Homo sapiens: one gene and its partners. The protein of the gene in region 7 purifies or fractionates together with the protein of the main gene of each other region. This does not show direct contact. Each region holds a gene or a part of one and is shown on either strand. Other genes may lie near its edges. The genes, in order: NEK10, POLE, PPIE, CTCF, WFDC5, RFC1 and SMC1A.

The links.
Region 1: the proteins of SMC1A (region 7) and NEK10 purify together in Homo sapiens (co-immunoprecipitation; one large-scale study listed by IntAct). This does not show direct contact.
Region 2: the proteins of SMC1A (region 7) and POLE fractionate together in Homo sapiens (co-fractionation; one large-scale study listed by BioGRID). This does not show direct contact.
Region 3: the proteins of SMC1A (region 7) and PPIE purify together in Homo sapiens (affinity purification with mass spectrometry, with the first as the bait; one large-scale study listed by BioGRID). This does not show direct contact.
Region 4: the proteins of SMC1A (region 7) and CTCF purify together in Homo sapiens (affinity purification with western blotting; 2 studies listed by BioGRID and IntAct, with this or other methods). This does not show direct contact.
Region 5: the proteins of SMC1A (region 7) and WFDC5 purify together in Homo sapiens (affinity purification with western blotting; one study listed by BioGRID). This does not show direct contact.
Region 6: the proteins of SMC1A (region 7) and RFC1 purify together in Homo sapiens (affinity purification with western blotting; 2 studies listed by BioGRID and IntAct, with this or other methods). This does not show direct contact.

Annotation. Positions count from the first base shown.
Region 1 is NC_000003.12:27,110,884-27,114,383, reverse strand, and holds part of NEK10 (serine/threonine-protein kinase Nek10), read left to right. Parts: intron 1-85; coding exon of another isoform or gene 86-104; exon of another isoform or gene 105-158; intron 159-3,063; coding exon 3,064-3,112; 3' UTR 3,113-3,500. UniProt on the Homo sapiens protein: Plays a role in the cellular response to UV irradiation. Mediates G2/M cell cycle arrest, MEK autoactivation and ERK1/2-signaling pathway activation in response to UV irradiation.
Region 2 is NC_000012.12:132,673,843-132,677,342, forward strand, and holds part of POLE (DNA polymerase epsilon catalytic subunit A), read right to left. Parts: intron 2,812-3,500; coding exon 2,704-2,811; intron 2,363-2,703; coding exon 2,252-2,362; intron 1,979-2,251; coding exon 1,893-1,978; intron 1,676-1,892; coding exon 1,556-1,675; intron 1-1,555. UniProt on the Homo sapiens protein: Catalytic component of the DNA polymerase epsilon complex. Participates in chromosomal DNA replication.
Region 3 is NC_000001.11:39,752,382-39,755,881, reverse strand, and holds part of PPIE (peptidyl-prolyl cis-trans isomerase E), read right to left. Parts: intron 2,973-3,500; coding exon 2,830-2,972; intron 2,596-2,829; coding exon 2,527-2,595; 3' UTR 1-2,526. UniProt on the Homo sapiens protein: Involved in pre-mRNA splicing as component of the spliceosome. Combines RNA-binding and PPIase activities.
Region 4 is NC_000016.10:67,625,026-67,628,525, forward strand, and holds part of CTCF (transcriptional repressor CTCF), read left to right. Parts: intron 1-1,529; coding exon 1,530-1,690; intron 1,691-3,344; coding exon 3,345-3,500.
Region 5 is NC_000020.11:45,108,963-45,112,174, forward strand, and holds the end of WFDC5 (WAP four-disulfide core domain protein 5 precursor), read right to left. Parts: exon of another isoform or gene 1,905-3,212; coding exon of another isoform or gene 1,814-1,904; coding exon 1,673-1,813; intron 1,579-1,672; coding exon 1,438-1,578; intron 1,052-1,437; coding exon 1,047-1,051; 3' UTR 501-1,046; downstream 1-500.
Region 6 is NC_000004.12:39,290,160-39,293,362, forward strand, and holds part of RFC1 (replication factor C subunit 1), read right to left. Parts: intron 1,694-3,203; coding exon 1,480-1,693; intron 1-1,479. UniProt on the Homo sapiens protein: Subunit of the replication factor C (RFC) complex which acts during elongation of primed DNA templates by DNA polymerases delta and epsilon, and is necessary for ATP-dependent loading of proliferating cell nuclear antigen (PCNA) onto primed DNA.
Region 7 is NC_000023.11:53,416,155-53,419,654, forward strand, and holds part of SMC1A (structural maintenance of chromosomes protein 1A), read right to left. Parts: intron 1-3,500. UniProt on the Homo sapiens protein: Involved in chromosome cohesion during cell cycle and in DNA repair. Central component of cohesin complex. The cohesin complex is required for the cohesion of sister chromatids after DNA replication.

The DNA of each region.
Region 1 (3,500 bases), on a different chromosome or scaffold from region 7:
ACCGTCAATAGAAATTACCATCTCCACAACTACTCTCCTCCCACCATCCCTGGAGAGATTTTTGAATTTTCATTTTCTATTCAAGGGCTGAGTATATGCATTAGGAAAAGAAAATGGTAACAGGAACAGAAAGAGCAGCAAGGACCTCTGACCAAGTTTGGATATTTCTCATTTCTGGGCTTCCGGGAAAAAGGGAGCTAGGACTGAGTTGGAAGGAAGAAAGCTGTGTAAAGAAAGTTAAAGAAGGTCATAAAGGCTTGGCCAGCCTCGTAGCTCTTCCCAAAGCAGGCTCTATTTTTGATCATTTGCATGGTTGTATGATAAATTACATTTTACATACATAAGCATACTATCATGGATAGTATGAATGTTTCTGTTTTTAACTGTGAGCCTCATTATTTCAAGTGCCCTTGGCTTGTACTGGGGAAAAGATGACTCTTGTCATTTTATCTGCATTTTCTCAGAGACTTGGGATCATGGGCAAGGAATGTCTTCATATTTTTTGCAGAAAATCATTTAAATATCAAGAAAAACTAAGTGTGCAAGGAACTTAAGGAAGCTCTTACAAGAACTTTTATTTTCCCTTTATTAAAAAATATTTGTCTTATTTTGGAATTTATCATTATTCTTTTTCAATTCTACTTTCATTAGGTTTTAAACCGATCTAGTTCCAAAGACATATGGCTTTATTAAAAGACATTGCAAATTTTCTTATTATGATAAACAGATAATAAGATGCCTTATAACAAAGGCAAAAAATTATTCAGTTATATTTGTAATTGTGAATCTATTATGAAGGTATGATGAAACAGTCAAGTTTAAGCAATATAAGTTGGGTATTGCATTAAATTTTCTTAAAGTGCTCCAAATTAAAATGAATCACATTTAAAAATCCATATATCCATGGTATTCCCTTTTTGGCTTCTTTTTTTTTTTTTTTTTTTTTTTGAGATGGAATCTCGTTATGTTGCTCAGGCCAGGCTGAAGTGCAATGGTGCGATCTTGGCTCACTACAAACTCCACCTCCTGGGTTCAAGCGATTCTCCTGCCTCAGCCTCCCGAGTTGCTGGGATTATAGGCGCCCACCACCACACCTGGCTAATTTTTGTATTTTTAGTAGAAACGGGGTTTCTTCATGTTGGCCAGGCTGATCTTGACCTGGCCTCAGGTGATCCACCTGCCTTGGCCTCCCAAAGTGCTGGGATTACAGGCATGATCCACCACACCCGACCCCCTTTTGGCTTCTAATAGCAATGATAGAACATATCTTGGGAGAAAAACTCTCCAGAATTTGTTTGTAAAAATAACCCTTGTTTGTGCCTAAAGCCACTCTTTGTTTACTAGTATTCCAAAATAATTTCCAAGAAATAAGTCAGGCTTCAATTAGAAGCACCTACTAATCCACAAACTGTGAATAACACATAACTCCAAGTACAAATCAGATTAGCTGGTACTGTCATGCTTTTTTCCACAAAGGATGGAGGGTGCTAAATGTCACAGCATATGTAGAGGTATTTAGAATCAGTATTTAGAATTAGTAGACTGCATTTTTCCCCAATAGGTTTCATAGAATGGGCAATATTATCAAAGATGTCAATAGATAGTCTCTGAAAAATAAAGTTTCATGGCCACATATATTTGGGAAACTCAGAATGTACAATTTTTTATATTTGGAGAATGTTGACACCTATTACTATATTAAAGACTCTGAGATGTACTATAAGAAAGAAATCTGTTGACCTTGTTTGTTGACCTCAGTGTTTTCCTCACTCTTTACATGGAATACAATTGAGGAAAGCTGTTTTAGCTATGTGGTTGGAAATGAGGAACACCGTTTTCACTCCTTCACCAGGGTCTACCCAGATCTCTGTTGTTCTCATTGACATGGTCATCATTGTCATCATCGTCATTGCAAAATTTGTTCTTAAATGAATTAAGCACCGTGCTGAGAAAGTTACATATATAATTTCGGTGTTATTCAAGTTTACAATTTAAGACTATCAGTTTGAATAGTACACACATCATCTAGCCAGCCAGTCACTAAAGGATTAATTCAAGATAAGGTACATTTTTGGTTTAAATTATAGGGTTTATATTTAGTTAAGGAAGAGAATAGAGAGGTGCCATTTTCAGACTGAAAGTCTCAGGATAAAGCCATTATCTATCTGTTAGCTATCTTTGAGGAAGATTTCTGGAACTGTTTAAATCATGAGGAGACTGCTTGGACAGTTAGGAAGAATGTCTCAGGCATAAAATGCTGCATTAGGAAAAGAAAATGGTAACAGGAACAGAAAGAGCAGCAAGGACCTCTGACCAAGGTTGGGTATTTCTCATTTCTGGGCTTCTGGGAAAAAGGGAGCTAGGACTGAGTTGGAAGGAAGAAAGCTGTGTAAAGAAAGTTAAAGAAGGTCAAAAAGGCTTGGCCAGCCTCATAGCTCTTCCCAAAGCAGGCTCTATTTTTGATCATTTGCATGGTTGTATGATAAATTACGTTTTATATACATAAGCATTTAGCTTGCTTACCAGAAGGATGCAACTTAATATGCCTTAATTTTATCATTGTTGTTTGTGAGGATAAAATCATTTGAGTCATGAATAAACAGATAATGAGCATATAATCTTTATGAATATACTTATGTATTACATTAATATTTTATTTTTAATAATAAAATGTGTTGAGAAATAACAGTATACAAGATAACAAATCTACATTGAATCAACTTGAATTGTTTTATTTCCCCAATTGACTGATAAGCGTGTAAATTAGTTATTTTAACCTACACAGGTATTCAAGTATACAAGCTATTTTGAATGAATATTTGTTTTTCTACTACAAAGTGTTATCAGTTCCTATTGAGTTCATAATTTGAGAAAGGCCTTGTTAGCACCAGACTTCAGCCAAAGGCAGCTTTTTAAAAATGTCCCCATCCTAACAAAAATAATCGTCTTTTTATTTACTGTGATTTATTTACTTATATGCCTGAGCCCCAGTTTTTGAAATTGAATGTATGAACTAAAATATTTGTAACTATAGAGAATTCTTTCCACTTCTGAATCTTATAGGTATCATTCCTATCCATGGGGGACCAAGAATCACCCAACCAAAAGATGAAAATGCTGCATTTTGAGTGGACTTGATTTTCTCAGTGAAGTTCAAGTTCTGGACTTCAGCCGCTATTGCAAGATGCCCAAGGATTGGGTGCTGCTAGAGGGTGTGGAAAAGACCAAGATGCCATGGGGCCTGCAGGACTTCTTTCTGGGGGTCCTGTGCTGGAGTATATGACAGCTGCGGTACTTGAGGGCTTCATTGCCAGAACACATTATATACAGGATGTCAGAGCTACCAGTGTGCTGCTGGGAGAAAATGCTGCAAAATTCATCTTTTGGAGGGTGGGGGGAAAACCCAAAAACAACAACAAAAAAACTCTCTTACAGAATTTTCCTTAACATTAAAAAAAACTTGTCATATTTTTCAAAGGCACATTTGATACTCAGAATTG
Region 2 (3,500 bases), on a different chromosome or scaffold from region 7:
CCACATGGTGTAGACACCTTGTGAAAACCCTTCATCAGGATCTAGTTAATCTCACAGACCTATCCACAACACAAGGAAGCACCAGGACTGGTCCTTCCGGCCCTCGCCTTCCTCCCATCCTCAGCAGAGTTTGTGGCCTCTCCGACGGGCGCCCCACCTCCTTGGGCCTCTCCCCAGACCTCAGGTCTGCACCCCTGGGGCCTAGTTCTATCAACCACACTGATCTTCTCTCCTCACACTGTCCCTTCAGCACGGAAACACTCAAGCCCACCCTCCTTTAATAGAAGGCAAGATGTGATCAGATGCCAAGAAGAATAAAAATTTAAAAAATAAATAAAAAATAAAAATTAAGAAAAGAAGGCCCCCCACACTCTACCCGGAACCTGTCTCTACCTCCTCCCTACAGACGCATTCCCTGGAGCAGCTGTCCAGGGGTCATGTCCGGTCTCCACCCCCCGCAGCCTCCACCCTGTGGCCTTCTTCTCTCACTTTACCTCTTGCCTTCAGTTCATCCACTACCCCAGCTTTCACCAAGACCCACCCGCAACCCAGTGAGTCCCAATCTACAGTGCGAGCCCAAACCAAGCCTCATGGTGGTCTTCAGGGCCCCCATATGGGTGGGGCTTCCAGGCTAGCATATCGGTAGCAGGGTCACCTCCTGCCTCAAGCCCCTTCTCTACCCATTCCCTGTCTCCACGGATGGCACAAAAACCCCAGGTGCCAACCCCTCCCTAAGAACCAGCATCCCTGGGCCTCCCCCTGCCCCACATGACAGATCCTGAATCCTCACAACCCTCACTCCCTGCCTTGGATCAGGACTGTCACACCGTCACACGCTAAACCGGCCCCAGCCTCCTGGCCTCCCTCTCCAAGCCAAGTGCTGAGCATCAGAGCTAAACAGAAACGCATTCAGGCTGCAAGCACCCCAGTGGCACTGTGCAGAATACAGAGGCCGTGGAGGCCCCTCCATTCCCTTCCTTCCCTCCCTCCCTTCCCTTCCTTCCCTCCCTCCCTTCCCTTCCTTCCCTTCCCTCCTTTCCTCCCTCCCTTCCCTTCCTTCCCTTCCAGCCTCCTTCTGTTGGCATTTCCACATCCACCTGTCTTCCCAACCAGTCATGTCAGAGCCCCCGAACGCCGTGACTCTCCGAAGCTCTGAGCTGCCTCCCACCCTAGCTCATATGGAATCTGTGGTTGTCCCGTGAGGCTTGTCCTGTGAGGCAGCCGGGCTGCCACATCCCAACCTTGCCTGGGCAGAGCAGCTCCATGAGGTCCTAGGTCTGGGACCTGTCAGCTGAGTGCGTCTTTCCAGCGGCTTCCCCACCCCAGAGGCTGATGCTCAATGTGCCTGGTCACTGATGAATTGTCAGTCAACAGTCAAAGACAGCACATCCCGGGCCCTGGCAGGGTTGCAGCTGCCATACTCTTGGGTGACCTGAAACGGCCTCTCGGAGGCCACCCTCCTCCCATGAGATGTGGTGACAGCACAGTCTGCAAGAGGCCTTCAGATCTCGCTCACGGACAGCAGTGAGGAGCCATGCTGCTCTGTGGCCCCTACCTGAGGCAGTCCATGTGGATGCACTGGGGCGCCTTGTACTCCCCCTGGCTGTCCTTCTGGAAGCCTATCTCCTGCTGCATGCTCAGACCGTGGACTGCTGCCCGGGCCTCCACAAATGGCCTGGGTTGGAAAGAGGACAGACAAGCAAGTGGGCAGGTCAGGCTCTAATGCCCCTTTCTCCATTCCTCCCTCAGACCCAGGGAGGAACCCAGACACGGGAGGTGCAGAGTGAACCCAGGAGCCACCTCCTAAGTCGACATGGGAAGCGCCCCTGCACCACGCAACGCCCTCCCTCTCAAATGCTGCCCAGTTACTCATAGAGAAGACACAGACTCACCAGTCAAAAAAGTCCCCGTTGTAGGTGACCATGATGGTGGGTTTGGTCTCCTGGACGTGTTCAAACCACCTTTGGATCAGATGAGCCTGAACCCAAGTCACAGCAGTCAGAGGTCTGCTCTTTCTCTTCTTCAAGCTATTCCAAATTCCTCTCCCAAAGTTCAGAAGCAGCAGCCTCATGTTGGCCCTTATTCCTGCCCCGCCCCTCCGCCCGTCTCTGGCAGAAAAGACGGTCATACCCTGAGAACAAAGCTCATGGAGCTGCAATTCTGATCTGACGGAATGCCTGAGGCCTTGGAAAGATCCACATGTCCGTTCTTCCCACAATACCGGGTAGTTTCCCAAGTGATACCTCCTTACCTCATCGGGTTCATTGAAGACACAAAAGGGGCCTTCATATTCTGGCTTGGGGGTGAACTCAAAATCTTCAATATCTTCTGAAACAATCTCCCTGTTGGTGATGAGGTAGCCCTAGCCAAGTTCATTAGCAATCAGCACAAGTCAGAGGCTGCAAAGCCAAGAAATGGCGTTCCCACCCTGCCCACACACTCTGCCTAGAGATTCTCACTACAAAGAAGTCCACAGCAATGTGAAAGTGCTTTAAGCTTCCTGAGAAGAGACGCTCTGTGTGTGGATTCCCACTCGAAAGGGGAGGGTACAGCTGGAGGTCGGAACGGCTTGGTTGCTCCCATTCCTGGACTAACTCATTATTCACTCAACAAATACTAACAGTGGGGCAGATGCTGCTGTAGTATGGGGACCAGACAAGGTCCCCATCCCAGGAGCTTACTTCCCAGAAGCCACCTGCTCACCTGGCCATCGATCATGTAGGAAATCATCATAATCTGGTCTGTCTCAGCATCAGGAAACTTGAGGGGCAGTTTGGTCGTCTCAATGTCAAATGCCAAAACCACAGGGTCCTGTGGGGACAAAATAAGCATAAAGCCAAGCTCTAAACTCCCCATTAGGCCTCCCTGAACACCCACCCCCAGCCTGCTCTACCTCCCTCTGGTTGTTAAAAGAGTCAAAAGGCTCTAGAGCTGGGAGAAGGACCCTAAGACTAACCAACCTACATCAAGAGTATCACGACTCCCTATGGTATGAAAACTGACATACCTAAGAGAGCAGCTGATCACAGGACAAGCCTAAAATCACAGAACTTTAGGAGAAAAACTCTTCAAAAGACATCACCTCATTCTGGTGGTTATGACAACTCTGAAAGGTAACTGTGGCACAGAGATGATATCTTCATTTCGGAAAAGAGAAAACTGAATACAAAGACTTTCCCAACACCACAAAGTCATGTTTGAACCAAGGCCTTCTAGTTACAAATCCATTTTTCACCATGTCCCTTCACTATCAACTACCCAAACGGAAGTCCCAGCTTTCCCTCGAGTGTCCAAATCCTGCCTAGCTCAAACACTGATGTCATACAGTGATATACAACAAAAAAGGAAATGATACTGTCAGAAACTGATGAAAAATTCTAACTCCATATTTCCTTTAATAAAGTATTTGGGGGAAAAGCAGCAAACATATCTTTGAGTCAGATTCACTCTCCAGCACTGAAGAATATTCTCTCCAGAAAACTGGAAATTTTAGGATGAAG
Region 3 (3,500 bases), on a different chromosome or scaffold from region 7:
AAACCACCCTGTGTGACCTTTGGCAGTCACGCCAATAAAGCCTCAGTTTACCTGTGCAGGGTTCCAGTGTGCATTCAATAACATCTGTGAACACCCAGGAGGAACACTGGGAGAGGAGTCCACACCCAATGGCTCCAAACCTGCTGAGCTTTCAGAACTGCCCACTGGCCTCCACCTCCCCAGAGTATCAGGGAGGAACAGAGTGACAAGGTTGTCACAGGAGTCTGTCCTTTTATGGGAGGCTGGCTGTGCTTTTTCTACACACTCTCTCCTGGTTCTCGTCCAAGCACTGAAGTCAGTGCTATCATCCCCAGCTTCATAGATGCCTGCCTAACACCTGTGACTGACCTCTGATGGCCATTATTTGCACTCAGAGAAGGGGCTGTGCTTTGAGGGAGGGTCTCTTTTGGAAGCTCCATAGGGGTGAGGGGTAACCATGTAGTATATCCCAGCTACATGGAGCCTGAACTCAGTCAACTGTAGCAGCTGGAGCTCACAAAGTCCAGTCGGCACATGGGAGCCAGAGGTAGGGCAGAATGCCACCATCCCTCAGCAAGAGCTATCCTAGGGTCATGAGGACCACCTAGCCTCTCCTGCCTCCTGGCTCATCCAGATCTCAATCCAAGATGCAAAAGCTCAGCTCAGTGGATTCTGAATGGTCTGAGTGACCCAACCCACAGGAGGTGTCCAACAGCTACAGGACTCAGTCCCTGCTAAAAGCCTTCAGCAGATGAGATTCTTTATAACCGCCTGGCTGACCAGCATCTGGAGGGGGAGTGGAGAGAAGCCAGCTCCAAGAAGTGGCTGCACACAGGAGAGCCAGACTGTGAGCTCAGCAGGGGGTGGGACCATTTGTTCTCTTCAGTGGCTGGCAATCCTGTTTTGTAAAGGCTCAGATAGTAAGTATTTTAGGCCTTGGGACTGTGATGGTCTATTTTGTGTGTCAATTTGGCTAGGCCATGGTATCCAGTTTTTAGTCAAACACTAGTCTAGATGTTGCTGTGATGATGGTTTCTTTTTTTCAAGACAGGGTCTCCCTCTTGTCACCCAGGCTGGAGTACAGTGGCATGACCATGGCTGACTGCAGCCTCAACCTCCCAGGTTCAAGCGATCCTCCCACCTCAGCCTTCTGAGTAGCTGGGACTATAGGTGTGCACTACCATACCTGGCTTTTTTTTCTCCCCCTAGAGATGGGGGTCTCTACATTGCCCAGGCTGGTCTTGAACTCCTGGGCTCAAGTGATCCTCCTGCCTCAGCCTCCCAATAGTGGTGGAATTATAGGCATGAGCCACCATGCCTGGCCTATTTTTTAGATGGATTAATATTTAAGTCAGTAGAGAGTAAAGCAGATTACCCTCCATAATGTGGGTAGGCCTCATCCAATCAGTTGAAATTCTTAAGAGAAAAAAGACTGAGATCACTGGAGGAAGAATTCTGCTTCCAAACTGCCTCAGAGCTGAACTGCAACATCAGTTTTTTTCCTGAGTCTCCAGCCTGCTGGTCTGTTGTGCAGATTGCAGACTTGCCAGCTCCTACCACTGCTTGAGCCAGTTCCTTAAAATAAATCTCTTTCTACATATATACACACCCTATTGGTTCTGCTTCTCTAGAAAACCCTAATACAGGGACCATAGCCTGTATTGTGTCTATAGCCCCTTACGCACCTCTGCCACTGCAGTAAGAAACCACCATGGACAATATGTAAATAAATGGACGTGGCTGTGTTCCAATAAAACCTGATTCATAAAAACAGGCAGTGGGCTGGATTAGGCACATGTAGTTTGTTGGCTTCCTGTCTCCTGACAAATAGGCATAGTACTTGGCACAGAGAAGGCACTTTGAGTTATAAAAATTTCATTTTTTAAAATCTGTAGGGTGAAAGTGAACAAATAAACAAATGAACCACTGAGAGTACACTTGCTGGCTGTAAGGCCGGCAGCTGGGTTTAGGAGCAGAGGCAGCAGAAGACCGGAGCTTTCCAGTCTTTAATTTCCGTTGCCCTGACATCGATGCCTGGTGTGAAGATACATCACCTGACATCTAAGGGGATCGGCCCAAGGGAGGAAATGAAAGCTGTGAAAAAGATGCTCTGCTCTCCCCACTCACCAGCCTGCCTCAGAGGTCCAGCTTAGCCACAGACACAATCTCTGACAACTCCCAAGAACTAGCAGGAAGAGCAATATAAGAACTAGGGTTTATTTTAGCAAAGAAAACACGTAAGAGCCACACTGGTAGTCCCAGGAGAGGCCCAGCAGCAAATGCTGAGAAAAGCCAGTGGCTTTTTGCACAGCCTGCCCATGGTGGAGGGGAGCACCTGAGCTGGCTCCTGGGCCCACAGCTGTGCCTGGGAATAGTCCAGGCTGTGCCTGCAGAGGAGCTGCTCCAAGCAGACCCTGAGGAAGGGCACATATCCCAAATGCTGCTTGCTTCAAACAGGCACCCTCGGTGCTGCCTCCTCTGAGGCTGGCAGTTCCTTCCTGGATATGCAGGGTCAAGAGCGGAGGGGGAAGCAGAGAGAGTGCCGCCTCACACGTACTCCCCACAGTCGGCGATGATCACCTTCTGCTTTGGCTTCCCGTCCTTGCTGCCCTGGGCCTTTGTGGCAGAATAGAAGTGAGGGAGTAAGGCCGGAGACTAACAGTGGTTTAGGGATACCAACCCCTGCCTGCCCATTTGCCCACTTCCACCCCGGAACCTGGGCAGCAGCAGCCCCTCCCGCTGGACACAGCCCCTGGCCATCTCTCTCAGGCCACAGAGACTCTCCAGCCCTCACACAGGGCTGTGCTCCTAGGGCCTGGGTAAGGAGGAGGCCCATTCCTGGCCACATACCTCAATTTGCCGCAAGACATCTAGGCCTTCGGTGACCTCTCCAAACACCACATGCTTGCCATCCAGCCAGTCTGTCTTGTCACATGTCAGGAAGAACTGAGAGCCATTGGTGTTTGGGCCAGAGTTGGCCATGGATAGTAGACCTGAGGGAGAGAACAACCATCAGCTCCCCGAACCCTGGCTACCAGCCCTTAAAGGACGTCTGTGCAGGCTGTTGACAGCCCTTCAGCCAGTCAGGCTCAGACTCGGGGATGCACAGATCACATGCAAATGCGGCCACCTTATCTTGGATTCAGTTAATAGTCAGTGAAATGGTAAGTGAGGTGTTTCAATCACTTTATACTGGTCTGTTCTTTCATTAATTCATTTATTTAACAATTAAGTGTCTACTTGACAACCAGGTCCCTGTTAAGCCCTGGGAACACTGATGAGCAGAACATAGTCCAAGCTCTGGTGGAGCTCACAATCAGTGGAAAAGAGCCATTCAAAATGACAGCTATGACACAGTGAGGCCTGGTAACATGGACATTTGTCACGTAAGAGAATGTACATGTATATGTGTGTGTCTGTGTGTGTATGTGTACATGTATGTATGTGTGTGTGTGTCCACAATGACTCCTAAGTTTCTGATCAAGCGGCTAAGTGGATGGTGGAGTCATTTATTGAAACAG
Region 4 (3,500 bases), on a different chromosome or scaffold from region 7:
ATGATTCTCCTTCCTCATTTTCCCGAGTAGCTGGGACCACAGGTGTACGCCACCATGCCTAGCTAATTTTTGTATTTTTCAGTAGAGACGGGTTTCACTATATGTTGGCCAGGCCAGGTCTCAAACTCCTGACCTCAGGTGATCCACCCACCTTTGCCTCCTAAAGTGCTGGGATTCTTTTTGAGATGGAGTCTTTGTCGCCCAGGCTAGAGTACAGTGCAGTAGCACAATCTTGGCTCACTGCAACCTCTGCCCCCCAGGTTCAAGCCATTTTCTTGCCTCAGCCTCCCGAGTAGCTGGGATTACAGGTTTACAGGCATACACCACCACGCCCAGCTAATTTTTGTACTTTTTAGTAGAGACAGAGTTTTGCCATGTTGGCCAGGCTGGTCTTGAACTCGTCACCTCAGGTGATCCACCTGCCATGGCCTCCCAAAGTGCTAGGATTACAGGCGTGAGCCACTGTGCCTGCCAACTCTTAGACTTCTCAAAGCATGACCCATTCTTTTTATTTTAATTCTACTTTTTGCCTTGGTGATCTTATCAGCTCCCATGGGCTCAAATTCTAACAACTCTTTGTGGCATTGGTGGTACAGTGATAAGCATAGCTGCTTTCAAATCCTAACAACTTGTACATTTATATTCCTACTCCAGATCTTTCTTTTGAGTTAGCCTTATATAACTGTGTATCCCTTGCCATCCCACCCCTGCTTTTATATCTCTGGCATTTCAAATTCAGCATGTCTAAAACTGAAGGTCTAAAACTTCTCTGTCCCCTATGCCCCCCCACCCCCCGACCCTGAAAATAACACATACAACTTGGTCTTAAGCCCTCTTCCACTATTCTTGTCTCAATAAATGACCCCAACAGCTACCTGGTTTTCCAGGCCTGATACCTACTTTATTCTTCACTCTCTACAGTCACTAAATCCTGTTGATTCAACTGCTTCCATCTCTCATCAGTTCTTCCCCTTCCATCCACACCCATTGTCATCACCCTTGTCCCAGCCACCATCTTCTCCCACCTATCCTGTTTGAACAATCTTAATTGTTCTCCCTGCACCTGTTACTCTGCCTTTTCATTCATTTTCTGTATAGCACCCAGAGTAATACTTAAGAATCAGGAGAAATGGGCTGGGCGCAGTGGCTCACACCTATAATTCCAGCATTTTGGGAGGCCGAGGCGGGCAGATCACGAGGTCAGGAGATTGAGACCATCCTGGCTAACATGATGAAACCCTGTCTCTACTAAAAATACAAAAATAAAAAATAAAAAAATTAGCCGGGCATGGTGGCGGGCGCCTGTAGTCCCAGCTACTCAGGAGGCTGAGGCGGGAGAATGGCATGAACCTGGGAAGTGGAGCTTGCAGTGAGCTGAGATTGCGCCACTGCACTCCAGCCTGGGTGACAGAGCAAGACTCCGTCTCAAAAAAAAAAAAAAAAAAAAAGAATCGAGAAATGTATTAGTAACTTGTTAAAATGCTTGTTTGTGTTTTCACATTACCCTGGGCTTTTTACTGTGCTTTCAGGTGTCCACTTGCGAAAGCAGCATTCCTATATTGAGCAAGGCAAGAAATGCCGTTACTGTGATGCTGTGTTTCATGAGCGCTATGCCCTCATCCAGCATCAGAAGTCACACAAGAATGAGAAGCGCTTTAAGTGTGACCAGTGTGATTACGCTTGTAGACAGGTAGGAACCTTCATTGAAAGTTGTTGGTGCTTTCTCGGTGTCTGGTGTTATCAGAGGGCATTTACATATCTAGTACAGTGGCTGTTTTTAAAGATAGTATTTTCAAACTGTGGATTATGAGGAATGTCACCAAAATCAAAGGTCATGCTCCTTGTCAATTGTGTCATCCCGGTGTCCAGATGATGTTTTATTCAGTCACAGCTTACCTCTTCCTTAAGCAGACATCTTTCTGAAAACTGTGGAAAGTAAGTCCAGGACTTGAGAGAGGGGAAGAATCTCATGCGGGGACATGACTGTTGGGAGGGAGCCAAAGAAGGAGCTCAGCAGGAATAAGCAGCTCTATCTGTGCTACAATTATGGAAGCAGTTGTGCACCACACTAAAAATACCTTTATCAAGCCGGGTGCAGTGGCTCACACCTGTAATCCTAGCACTTTGGGAGGCCGAGATAGGCAACAGAGAGAGACCCCATCTCTACAAAAAGAAAAAATTAGGGCCGGGCGCGGTGGCTCGAGCGCCTGTAATCCCAGCACTTTGGGAGGCTGAGGTGGGCGGATCACTTGAGGTCAGGAGCTTGAGAGCAGCCTGGCCAACACGGTGAAACCCCGCCTCTACTAAAAATACAAAAATTAGCCGGGCATGGTGATAGACGCCTGTAATCCCAGCTACTCTGGAAGCTGAGGCAGGAGAATCGCTTGAACCTGGGGCGGAGGTTGCATTGAGCCGCGATTGCGCCACTGCGCTCCAGCCTGGGTGGCAGAGCGAGACTCTGTCTCCAAAAGAAAAAGAAAAAATTAGCTGGGGCCAGGCACGGTGACTCACACCTGTAATCCCAGCACTTTGGGAAGCCAAGGCAGGCAGATCATTTGAGGTTGGGAGTTCAAGACCAGCCTGGCCAACCTGGTGAAATCCCATCTCTACTAAAAAAAAAAAACAAAAAAACACGAAGGTCGGCCGGGCGCGGTGGCTCACGCCTGTAATCCCAGCACTTTGGGAGGCCGAGGCAGGTGGATCACAAGGTCAGGAGATCAAGACCATCCTAGCTAACACAGTGAAACCCCGTCTGTACAAAAAATCAGCTGGGCGTGGTGGTGGGTGCCTGTAGTCCCAGCTACTCCGGAGGCTGAGGCAGGTGAATGGCATGAACCCAGTGAGCCGAGATTGCGCCACTGCACTCCAGCCTGGGCGACAGAGTGAGACTCCATCTCAAAAAAAAAAAAAAAAAAAAAAGTCAGCTGGGTGTGGTGGCAGGCACCTGTAATCGCAGCTACTCAAGAGGCTGAGGCAGGAGAATTGCTTGAATCCGGGAGGTGGAGGTTGCAGCGAGCCAAGATCGCGCCACTGCACTCCATCCTGGGCGATAGAGCGAGACTCCGTCTCAAAAAAAAAACAAAAAAAATTAGCCAGGCATGGTGGCTCATACCTATGGTCCCATTTTGAAGCTGCAGTAAGCCATGATCACACCACTGCTCTCCAGACTTTGCAACAGAGCAAGACCCTGTCTCTAAATATATAGCTTTATCATCTCAACAAGCCGTGTGGAGTCTAGACCTAGCTTGGGTGAGAAATACCTGTTGGCCACATGCATGCAGGTGGCAGCTGGGGCAGTAGCCCCATGAGCAGGCTCTGAGGCCTTTCCCCCTATGCCGTTTCAGGAGAGGCACATGATCATGCACAAGCGCACCCACACCGGGGAGAAGCCTTACGCCTGCAGCCACTGCGATAAGACCTTCCGCCAGAAGCAGCTTCTCGACATGCACTTCAAGCGCTATCACGACCCCAACTTCGTCCCTGCGGCTTTTGTCTGTTCT
Region 5 (3,212 bases), on a different chromosome or scaffold from region 7:
AAAACATAGACTGGCCGTGCACGGTGGCTCACATATGTAATCCCAGCACTTTGGGAGGCTGAGGCAGGTGGATCACTTGAGGCCAGTAGCTTGAGACCAGCCTGGCCAACATGGTGAAAACCTGTCTCTACTAAAAATACAAAAATTAGCCAGGCATGGTGGTGGGCACCTATAGTCTCAACTACTTGGGAGGCTGAGGCAGAAGAATCGCTTGAACCCGGGAGACGGAGGTTGCAGTGAACCAAGATCGTGCCACTGCACTCCAGCCTGGGCAACAGGATGAGACTCTGTCTCAAAAAACAAAAAACCAAAAACATAGAGTGAGTACAGGCTTCAGGCTCAGTCTTGGCAGGTGGCTGTAGCTAGCTAGAGTTTAATAACACTATTTAATATCATTTAATCTGACATGATTTACTTTAATGGAACTGAGCTGTTTCCATTGCATTTGTTTTCATAATTCCATTTGTGGTAATTGATCTCATTTATAGTAGTGATATCAATTTTCTTTTGAAATGAATTTATTTATATACAAAAGTGAGCCATTTAAAGAAAACATTAAGTAAATGGTGGTACAGGCAGCGTGCAACCTATCATGGTGCTATTTTGTAGGTATGGTGAAAATCATGAAAGAGGTGAATGACTGATGTTTGGAAAACTCTGCAAGAATATTCATTCTGGATGGTTGGGCTGCCTGAGGGAGAGGTCAGGGTCTGCCTGAATTGGGCATTTTTGGTGGAGGAAGCAGCATGTACGGATTGGTGTGAAAGCGTTAGGAAGGGTGGGAAGCTCGTATGGCAGTGGTGCAGAGTACTGGGGTGATACAGAGGCCTTCCTCCGAGCTCAGGCTATGGACTTTGACTCCCAGGAGGAGAAACCAGGGGTGGATGGGTTGCAGGGAAGTGTCAGCAGGCCAGTGATTATCAGAAGGCTGGAACCACCGCTGGTAGAGATAGTGCTGTCCAGCGGGCAGGGCCCCAGGCCTCCCATCGTGAACTCTTTCCGTTGGTCCCCAGCTTAGGTGCAGAGCCACAGATCCTAAATCAGAATTAGCCTGAGGAGGGAGAAAGAAAGGGTTAATTCCTTCCCATAATAGGGCTCTGGTTTCTGGCCTTGGTCTCCCATCCATGCCCCACCAGCTCAGCTCTGGTTGCCACCAAGGCAGGATTCCTCTGCCCCCTTCAAAAGGGCAAACAGAAGCCCAGAGCAGTTTAGGGCTGTCATCCAGGTGCCACAGCAAGCTCAAGAAGAGAACCAAGGACTCCCGGGTCCTCTGTCATCCTAGCAGGACTCCTCCAACCCCTATCCAGTTTCCTAATCCTGGCCATGGGAGGTCCTGACTTCTGGGGAGGCATCCTGTTAAGCTTGTAGCAATGAAGAAAGTATTAGAGCTGGGCTCGGAGAGGGGAGGCACCTGCCCTGGGCACCCAGGAGCCGTACCTCTGGCAGGATCCCGGCAATCCCGCCCGCAGGCGCTGTGGCAGCATCGCTTTTTGCCCGAGCAGTCTGAGTCCTTGTGACACAGGTGGTTCATGGGGCTGAGGCAGCGCAGTTGGTCCTCTGGGCAGCTGCCCAGCTTCACTGCAACACAGGGAACTGGGTGAGCTCCGTCCTTGCCCACTGGCCCTGAAGCTTGGGGCTTGGATGGTCAGCAAGGTGGAGGGGAGGCATTTACCAGAGACCCTGGGGACACACTGGCGGAAGCAAGCTCTGTAGCAGCACTTCCTGGTCAAGGGACACTGGCTGTCTTCCACGCACTGGTCAGGCACCGATAGGAGGCAGGGCCCATCATCTGGCGGGCAGCCCCCCGATTTCTCTGTAAGAGAATCTCCTAATATTGCAGCTGGAGGAAGCTCACGGTTATGTAATAAGCGCTGACCTGGGAATGACAAGACTGAATTCTCCATCCCTTGCTTTTTGCCTGTCTTTTGGCTAGTTGTTATTTTTGTTTGTTTGTTTGTTTATAATGACTCCAAGCCTCAGTTTTCTGGCTGTGAAATGGGAAGCTGGGCTAGTTTGAGACTCAGATGGCACAAATGACAGGGGAAAATGAAGCCCAACATCTCCACTGTGGCCAATAAGGCCATGCCTGGTCTGGGCCCTGCCCATCTCTCTAGCCCCATCCTCTACTGCCCTCCCACTCAGTGCCTCCTGATCTGCTCCAAGCCAGCTCTCTCTGCAGGGCTCTTGCTCGGGCCGCATCCTTTGCCTAGTGCACTTCTCCTGTACTCCATGCGCCTGGTCAGCTCATTAGGACTCAGCAGAAACATCGCATCCTCAGAAGACCCTACTTCTCTGACCCCACATTAACTAGGTCAGCGCCCCCCCACCCCGGCCCCCACACACACACTCATTTCTTTCCTCCAGAGTTTGTGATGCTGCATCTGTTTGTCTGTGTCTCTCACTTGGCTGGAGGTGAGGAGAGTAGACACCCTGCCAGCTTTGCTCACCGTTGGTCCATATCACAGCCCTTGGCGCACAGCAGTAGGGCTCAGTGACTTGGAAAGAAAGGGTTTTGAAGTGAGGCCCAGCATTGCACGTGCGTCAGCAGTGGCCAGCCTGGTGCACTGTCACAGCCACAGCTGGCCACGTCTTCTGCACCGTTGCGTTCATCACTGTTGCAAATGGCATGGTTTCGAGGATCAGGCGTTAACTCTGTCTCTGAGGCGTTCCTCTGAATGGTATAGAGTGTCCTGTCCCAGAGCTTACCTAACATTCTTCTTGCTGGGATTTTGGGCCATGTTCATATTTCATGCACAAAGCTGGAAATCAGTATCCTCCTCCATGTAGAGGAGGAAATCAAGGCCTGAAAAGGGCAGTGACTTGTCCAGACCCACATGGGCTGGGCTTAGGACTCCCAGGGCCCGGCTCCCTCTGACCTCTGTGAGTGTCCACCCTGAGCTGTCTTTGAGCTGTAGGGATGGAGCAGGTCCCAGGTCTTCAATTCAATCCAGCATCAGAGAAAATGTTCAAGAGTTCCGAGGGGCAGCTGGATCTGGTTCTGTGACTTTACCTCTGTGTCCGCCCCTCCCCCTCAGCCCCCTGCCTGGGTGCTGGCTGCACACATAAGTAGGCACCTTGCTCACATCCTACGTGCGCTAAGTCAACTTCAGCTGTCACATCGGGTTGGTTTAAATTAAATTGCTGCCCCCTGCTGGAGAAAGAGAGGCTTGGCGTGGGGAGGGGGAAAAAGTGTGGGTTTGGGGTGGTGGGGG
Region 6 (3,203 bases), on a different chromosome or scaffold from region 7:
ATACATGTAAATCTAAGTACGTGCATTTTTCTGTGGATAAGTTCCATATTTTTCATAACATTCTTAATAGAGCCCATGACAAAAAAGACTGAAGGTGGGGCACAGTGGCTCATGCTTCTCCATGAGAATCTTGAACCCAGGAGGTGGAGGTTGCAGTGAGCTGAGATTGCGCCACTGCACTCCAGGCTGGGTAACAGAGTGAGATTCTGTCTAAAAAAAAAAAAAATACGTATATATATATTTGGGAACTTTAGGCAAACAAACAAACAAAAGGTCACTTCAAGTCATCATGTTTACCTATTCAGCATTCTCCACATTTCTACAAAGTAGTAAGCAAAGTTAATCAGTGAATCAGTAAATCAAAAAGGGGCTCGGCTGGGTGTGGTGGCTCACGCCTGTAATCCCAGCACTTTGGGAGGCCAAAGCAGGCAGTTCACATGAGGCCAGGAGTTTGAGACCAGCCTGGCCAACATAGGGAAACCCCATTTCTACTAAAAATACAAAACTTAGCCAGGCGTGATGGAGTGCACCTGTAATCCCAGCTACTTGGGAGGCTGAGGCATGAGAATGGCTTGAACCCGGGAGGCAGAGGTTGCAGTGAGCCGAGATCGCACCACTGCCCTTCAGCCTGGGCAACAGAGCTAGACTGTCTCAAAAAAAAAAAAAAAGGTTGGGGGAGCTCATCACAAGATATAAGTTGGCCTTTAATTTCCACAAAACACTAGATACCTTTTCCATAATAAGAGTAGTTACTTCAAAATACTAAGTAACTTGAAAGTCTTACCTTCAAGCTTCTAAACATAATTCCTGAATTAGTCCATGAATTCTAACAATGGATGTCTGCTGTGAGAATTTACTGATAACCATAAAGTCGGGTCAAAATTCTGGGGAGGGCAAACTACAGAGAATATGTCTTCTAAAACGCATTCATTACACAGGTGCAAGAGTTGGGTATTGGATGTTACATATTCATGATGTATCACTTTAGTTTTTTTCGTCTCATTATAAGAAAAGTGGGGATACATTATTACAGAGAAGATTATCCAACTGGAATAAATACTGAATCCACAGATTAGGTAGACTAAGAAAAAGAAAATTTGTACAAATCCTCAGCCAATAAACATATTTTATTTTTACAACCCATTACCACCAGAGCTCACCGCTCAACTTTTAATTCCCTAGACTCATCCACTCATCCTTTATAAAGAATATATTTATATTTGCTCCTCAAATTTCACTTCTTGCTTTTCCACTGAGCATAAAGCAAAGATAAAAATACAAATTGTAAAGTCAAGCCCAGAAGTCTACTCTTAATACTGCATTCAAATAGTATCTTTGGAAAATATAGGCCATAAGAAGCAACAAGCATTTGAGGGGAAAAAGAAGTAAATCTTAAAGCATCTAAAACACCTCCGAAGTATTGTCAGTACAAACCTGGTAATAGAAAGTGACGAAGAACCAGTGAGTGACATGATTTACCTTGGGATCCAGCTTTGAAAAGGGACTAGGTTTGCCACCCCAGCTGCTGATTTCCATGATATTCTCAAAGTCTTCTTTCATCAAATAATATGTGTCCATAAGTGCAACAACATCCTGTACTCCGTCTACTCCTTGTGAGGTCAAGGGCTGTACAAGTGCATCCCTTAGAAGCGACAGATAATCCATGTTTACAGTCCTTTTGCTGGAGTAAGTTCTGAAACCACAACAAAAGAGACATAGTCAACAGCAAAGTATCAACTCAAGTCATACTGTGCATAACAGCACTGAGTTAATCAGGCAGAGTTCAATCCAATTTCAATAATGCTGAATGGAATGCCTACTATTTGACAGCCAGCTGGTGTAGTTTAGAAAGCCCAGCACCACAGCATGAGGGTAATGGGTACACATCAATGTGCCCAAAGGAAATTTTCTACTTACCTACATCAGTGACTGAAAAACATACGTGGATTCTACTTCCACCCTACTCTTAAGGCCCAGGCAACAGAATGTTTCTTTGTGTTCATAAATATGACTCGTTCCAAGTTCCAAAATATTAAAAGCATCAGTATAAGGCAATGAAATTCCCTATCTCAAGTGTGTGAATGTGTATAACACCTTTTGGTCCCTGATTATAACACACAAAATCATATATGAATGCTTCCCTCACATTTCCTAATACTGTTACTCTGAAATCGTCAGTTCTAGAGCCGGCTTTTCTCCAAATCTAAGAAAATTACAGAGTGTTCCCACAAAATCAAAAAGTGATCCACAGTGGCCAGAGGAAGGTTTAGGGAAACAGTCTCTGGTCTGCTGAGAACTCGAATGTTATCATAAAATGACTCTTTCTTTCTCTCTTAAATGTTGTCACTTCTTAAAGACAGAAAGCAACTGAACAAAACAATATTTCAAATGCCACCATCCTAAATCTTTCCAACCCAGCTGCCTCTATCTTCAAACCAGGCATTTATATGTATACATTATTTATTTATTTATTTATTTATTTATTTATTTATTTATTTAAAGACGAAGCCTCACTCTTGTTGCCCAGGCTGGTGTGCAGTGGTGCAGTCTTGGCTCACTGCAACCTCCACCTCCCGGGTTCAGGAGGTTCTCCTGACTTAGCCTCCCAAGTAGCTGGGATTACAGGCACCCGCCACCACACCCGGCTAATTTTTTTTTTTGTATTTTTAGTAGAGACAGGGTTTCACCATCTTGCCCAGGCTGGTCTCAAACTCCTAACAGGTGATCCACCCGCCTTGGCCTCCCAAAGTGGTGGGATTACAGACGTGAGCCACCGCACCCAGCCTGTATACGTAAAACTTCAAAAGTTGTTGTTATCAGAACCAGCATCAGAAGCAAAAAGAAATGATTCTTTACAAATTGTCTATGGGTCCTGCTCCTGCCTTCAAGGAACTGAATGTGTGAACCATAAGAAGCCACAGCTTTTTTCCTGATCAGAAATCTAGACTCACCCTCGCAACTATTACCTAGACAAAGAGTTTTTAAAACTCTCCTAGTTTAATTTCATCCATTTCCTCTAGATTGTCTTCCATAATTAAGCACGCTAGTACTTAAAGGAAGCAGTGTGAGTCCCTAAGCCACAGTACCCCCAGAAATCATGAAACCATTTCCAAAACTGTTCTACAATGTTTTACAGTATCATCATCTTCTAATAGACTCATAGAAAAGTCAAAGATGCCATTTAGTGCACCTAAACCAAGGGT
Region 7 (3,500 bases):
TAGCTGGGCGTGGTGGCGGGCGCCTGTAATCCCAGCTACTTGGAAGGCTGAGGCAGGAGAATCGCTTGAACCTGGGAGGTGGAGGCTGCAGTGAGCCAAGATCGTGCCACTGCACTCCAGCCTGGGCAACAGAGTAAGACTCCATCTCAAAAAAAAAAAATAAAATAAAATAAAATAATAATAATAATAATAATGTAAAGTAAAATTTAAAAATAGGCTGGGAGGAGGGGAAAATGGGAGGTTTTTTTTTCTTTTGAGATGGAGTCTTGCTCTGTTGCCAGGCTGGAGTGCAGTGGCGTGATCTCAGCTCACCACAACCTCCGACTCCCTGGTTCAAGGGATTCTCCCACCTCAGCCTCCCGAATAGCTGGGATTACAGGCACACATCACCACACCCAGCTAACTTTCTGTATTTTTAGTAGAGACAGGGTTTCACCATGTTGGCCAGGATGGTCTCGATCTTCTGACCTTGTGATTCGCCCACCTCGGCCTCCCAAAGTGCTGGGATTACAGGCATGAGCCACCACGCCTGGCCTGGGAGTTGTTTTTTAATGGGCATAGATTTTCATTTTTGCAAGATGAAAAAGTTCTAGAGATCGTTTGCACAAAAACGTGAATATATTTAACACTACTGAACTGCACACTTAAAAATGGTTAATTTAGGAAATTTTATGTGTATTTTACCACCATCTAAAAAAAGTGCATATTCCTGTTGTGAAACAATATGAAACACACAGCATCATTTATGATGTATCTTACCAAAAATATTTAACCTGAATCTATTTTTTTCCTTTTTTTAATTTTTTGTTATAATAAAGACAAGGTCTCGCTGTGTTGCCCAGGCTAGTCTTGAACTCCTGGCCTCAAGTGATCCTCCCGCCGTGGCCTCCCAAAGTGCTGGGATTACAGGCATGAGCCACCATATCCAGCCTAATCTGAATCTAAACAAGCCTTCAGACTTATCTTCCAGTTCCTAGGAAATACAGCAATACAATATAGAGGAACATAGTAAGGTTTTCATGAGGAAATCTTAACACAAACACAGAATGTGGGATGTTCTCAAAGACAAATGGCCTGGTCTTTTCAAAAAGTCAGTGTCTAAAAAGAAAGGGTGAGCCGGGCACGGTGGCTCACGCCTGTTATCCCAGCACTTTGGGTGGCCGAGGCGGGCGGATCACCTGAGGTTGGGGAGTTCCAGACCAGCCTGACTAACATGGAGAAACCTCGTCTCTACTAAAAATACAAAATTAGCTGGGCATGGTGGCACATGCCTGTAATCCCAGCTACTCAGGAGGCTGAGGCAGGAGACTCGCTTGAACCTGGGAGGCAAAGGTTGCGGTGAGCCAAGATCACGCCATTGCACTCCAGCCTGGGCAACAAGAGCAAAACTCCATCTCAAAAAAAAAAAAAAAAAAAAAGTGAGCGAACCATTCCAAAACATGAGAGATTTCTGAGACATAGGTAAACAGTGCACAAACTTTGACTGGACTCTGGTTCCAAAATAACAAAAAGACATTTGGGGAGCAAGTTAAGGAAGCTTAAATATAAACTGGATAATTGATGACATGAGGAAATTTTCTTAGTTGTGATAACTGAATAGTGGTAGTACAGGAGAATGATGATTTTAAGAGGTGAATGCTGAAGCACTTAGGGGTGAAATGTAATTGAGTCTGTAATTTACTTCCAAATGACTAAGTAATGCACATATATGCTTGCAAATTTTCATAATAAAACTTGGGAGAAGAGAAGGCATAGGAAACAAATATATGAAAACGTAAACAGTGCAGCAGTGATTGCCTCTGAAAAGGAAACTAAGCAGCTAGGGTCAAGGGAGTCTTCTTTTTACTACTGTATATCCTTAAGGATTTTTAAAATTGTATACCATGTACATGTACCAGCTATTCAAATAAATAAGGTTTTCAACATTAACAGTGGCTATCTTTTCAGTAGTGGAGTTACAGCTTTTACTTTGTTCATTTTAGAATCCGAAAACAAAAAAGGTTTCATTTACTTATTTTATTTATTTTTTGAGATGGAGTCTCGCTCTATCGCCCACGCTAGATTGCACCTACCAAGTTCAAGTGATTCTCCTGCCTCAGTCTCCTGAATAGCTGGGACGACAAGCGTGTGCCACCACACCTAGTTAATTTTTGTATTTTTAGTAGAGATGGGGTTTCATCATGTTAGCCAGGCTGGTCTCGAATTCCTGACCTCAAGTGATCCACCCACCTCGGTCTCCTAAAGTGCTGGGATTACAGGCATAAGCTACCACGCCCAGACCTTATTCATTTATTTATTGAGACAGGGTCTGACTCTGTCACCCAGGCTGGAGTGCAGTAGCAGTATCACAGCTCTCTGCAGCCTTGACCTCCTTGGCTCAAGTGATCCTCCTGTCTCAGCCTCCCAAGTAGCGGGAAGCATGGGCATAAGCCACCATGCCCAGCTAGTTTTTGGATTTTTGCAGAAGCAGGGTCTCCCTATGTTGCCTAGGCTGGTCTCAAACTCCTGAGCTCCAGAGATCCTCCACCTTGGACTCCCAAAGTGCTGGGGTTACAGGCATGAGCCACCGTTCCTGGCCAAAAAATAGATATTGTTTTAAAAGTTTAGGCCGGGTGCAGTGGCTCATGACTGTAATCCCAGCACTTTGAAAGGCCGAGGCAGGCGGATCACCTGAGGTCAGGAGTTTGAGACCAGCCTGGCCAACATGGTGAAACCCCGTCCCTACTAAAAATACAAAAATTAGCCAGGCACGGTTGTGTGCCTATAATCCCAGCTACTCGGGAGGCTGAGGCACGAGAATCGCTTAAACCCAGGAGGTGGAGGTTACAGTGAGCTGAGATCGCGCCACTGCACTCCAACCTGGGCGACAGAGAGAGACTCTGTCTCAAAAAAAAAAAAAAAAAAAAAAAAGTTTAGTCGGGCTGGTGGATAAGGAGGAACAGTTTAGTCTCTATAATTTCTATCTCAAGACTGTCCCTAAAGAACTTATATATGACTTTGAACTGAAGATCTGATTTCCAACACCTTTCTACTCAGCCATAAAAACAGCAGCCCAAGTCCTTCCATAGAGACGGTATAAGACTATGATTAGGTTGGACACGGCATCTCACGCCTGTAATCCCAGCACTCTGGGAAGCAGACGTGGGTGGATCACTTGACCTCGGGAGTTTGAGACCAGCCTGGACAACATGGCAAAATCCCATCTCTACAAAAAATACAAAAATTGGCTCGGCATGGTGGCACACTCCAGTTGTCCTGACTACTGGGAAGGCTGAGATGGGAGGGTTGCTTGAGCCCGAGAAGTTGAGGCTGCAGTGAGCCATGATTGTGCCACTGTATGCCAGCCTTGGTGACAGAGCAAGACCCTGACTCCAAAAAAAAAAAAAATAGGCCAGGCGCGGTGGCTCACACCTGTAATCGCAGCACTTTGGGAGGCCCAGGTGGGCAGATCACGGGGTCAGGAGTTTGAGACCAGCCTGAACAACGTGGTGAAACCCCGT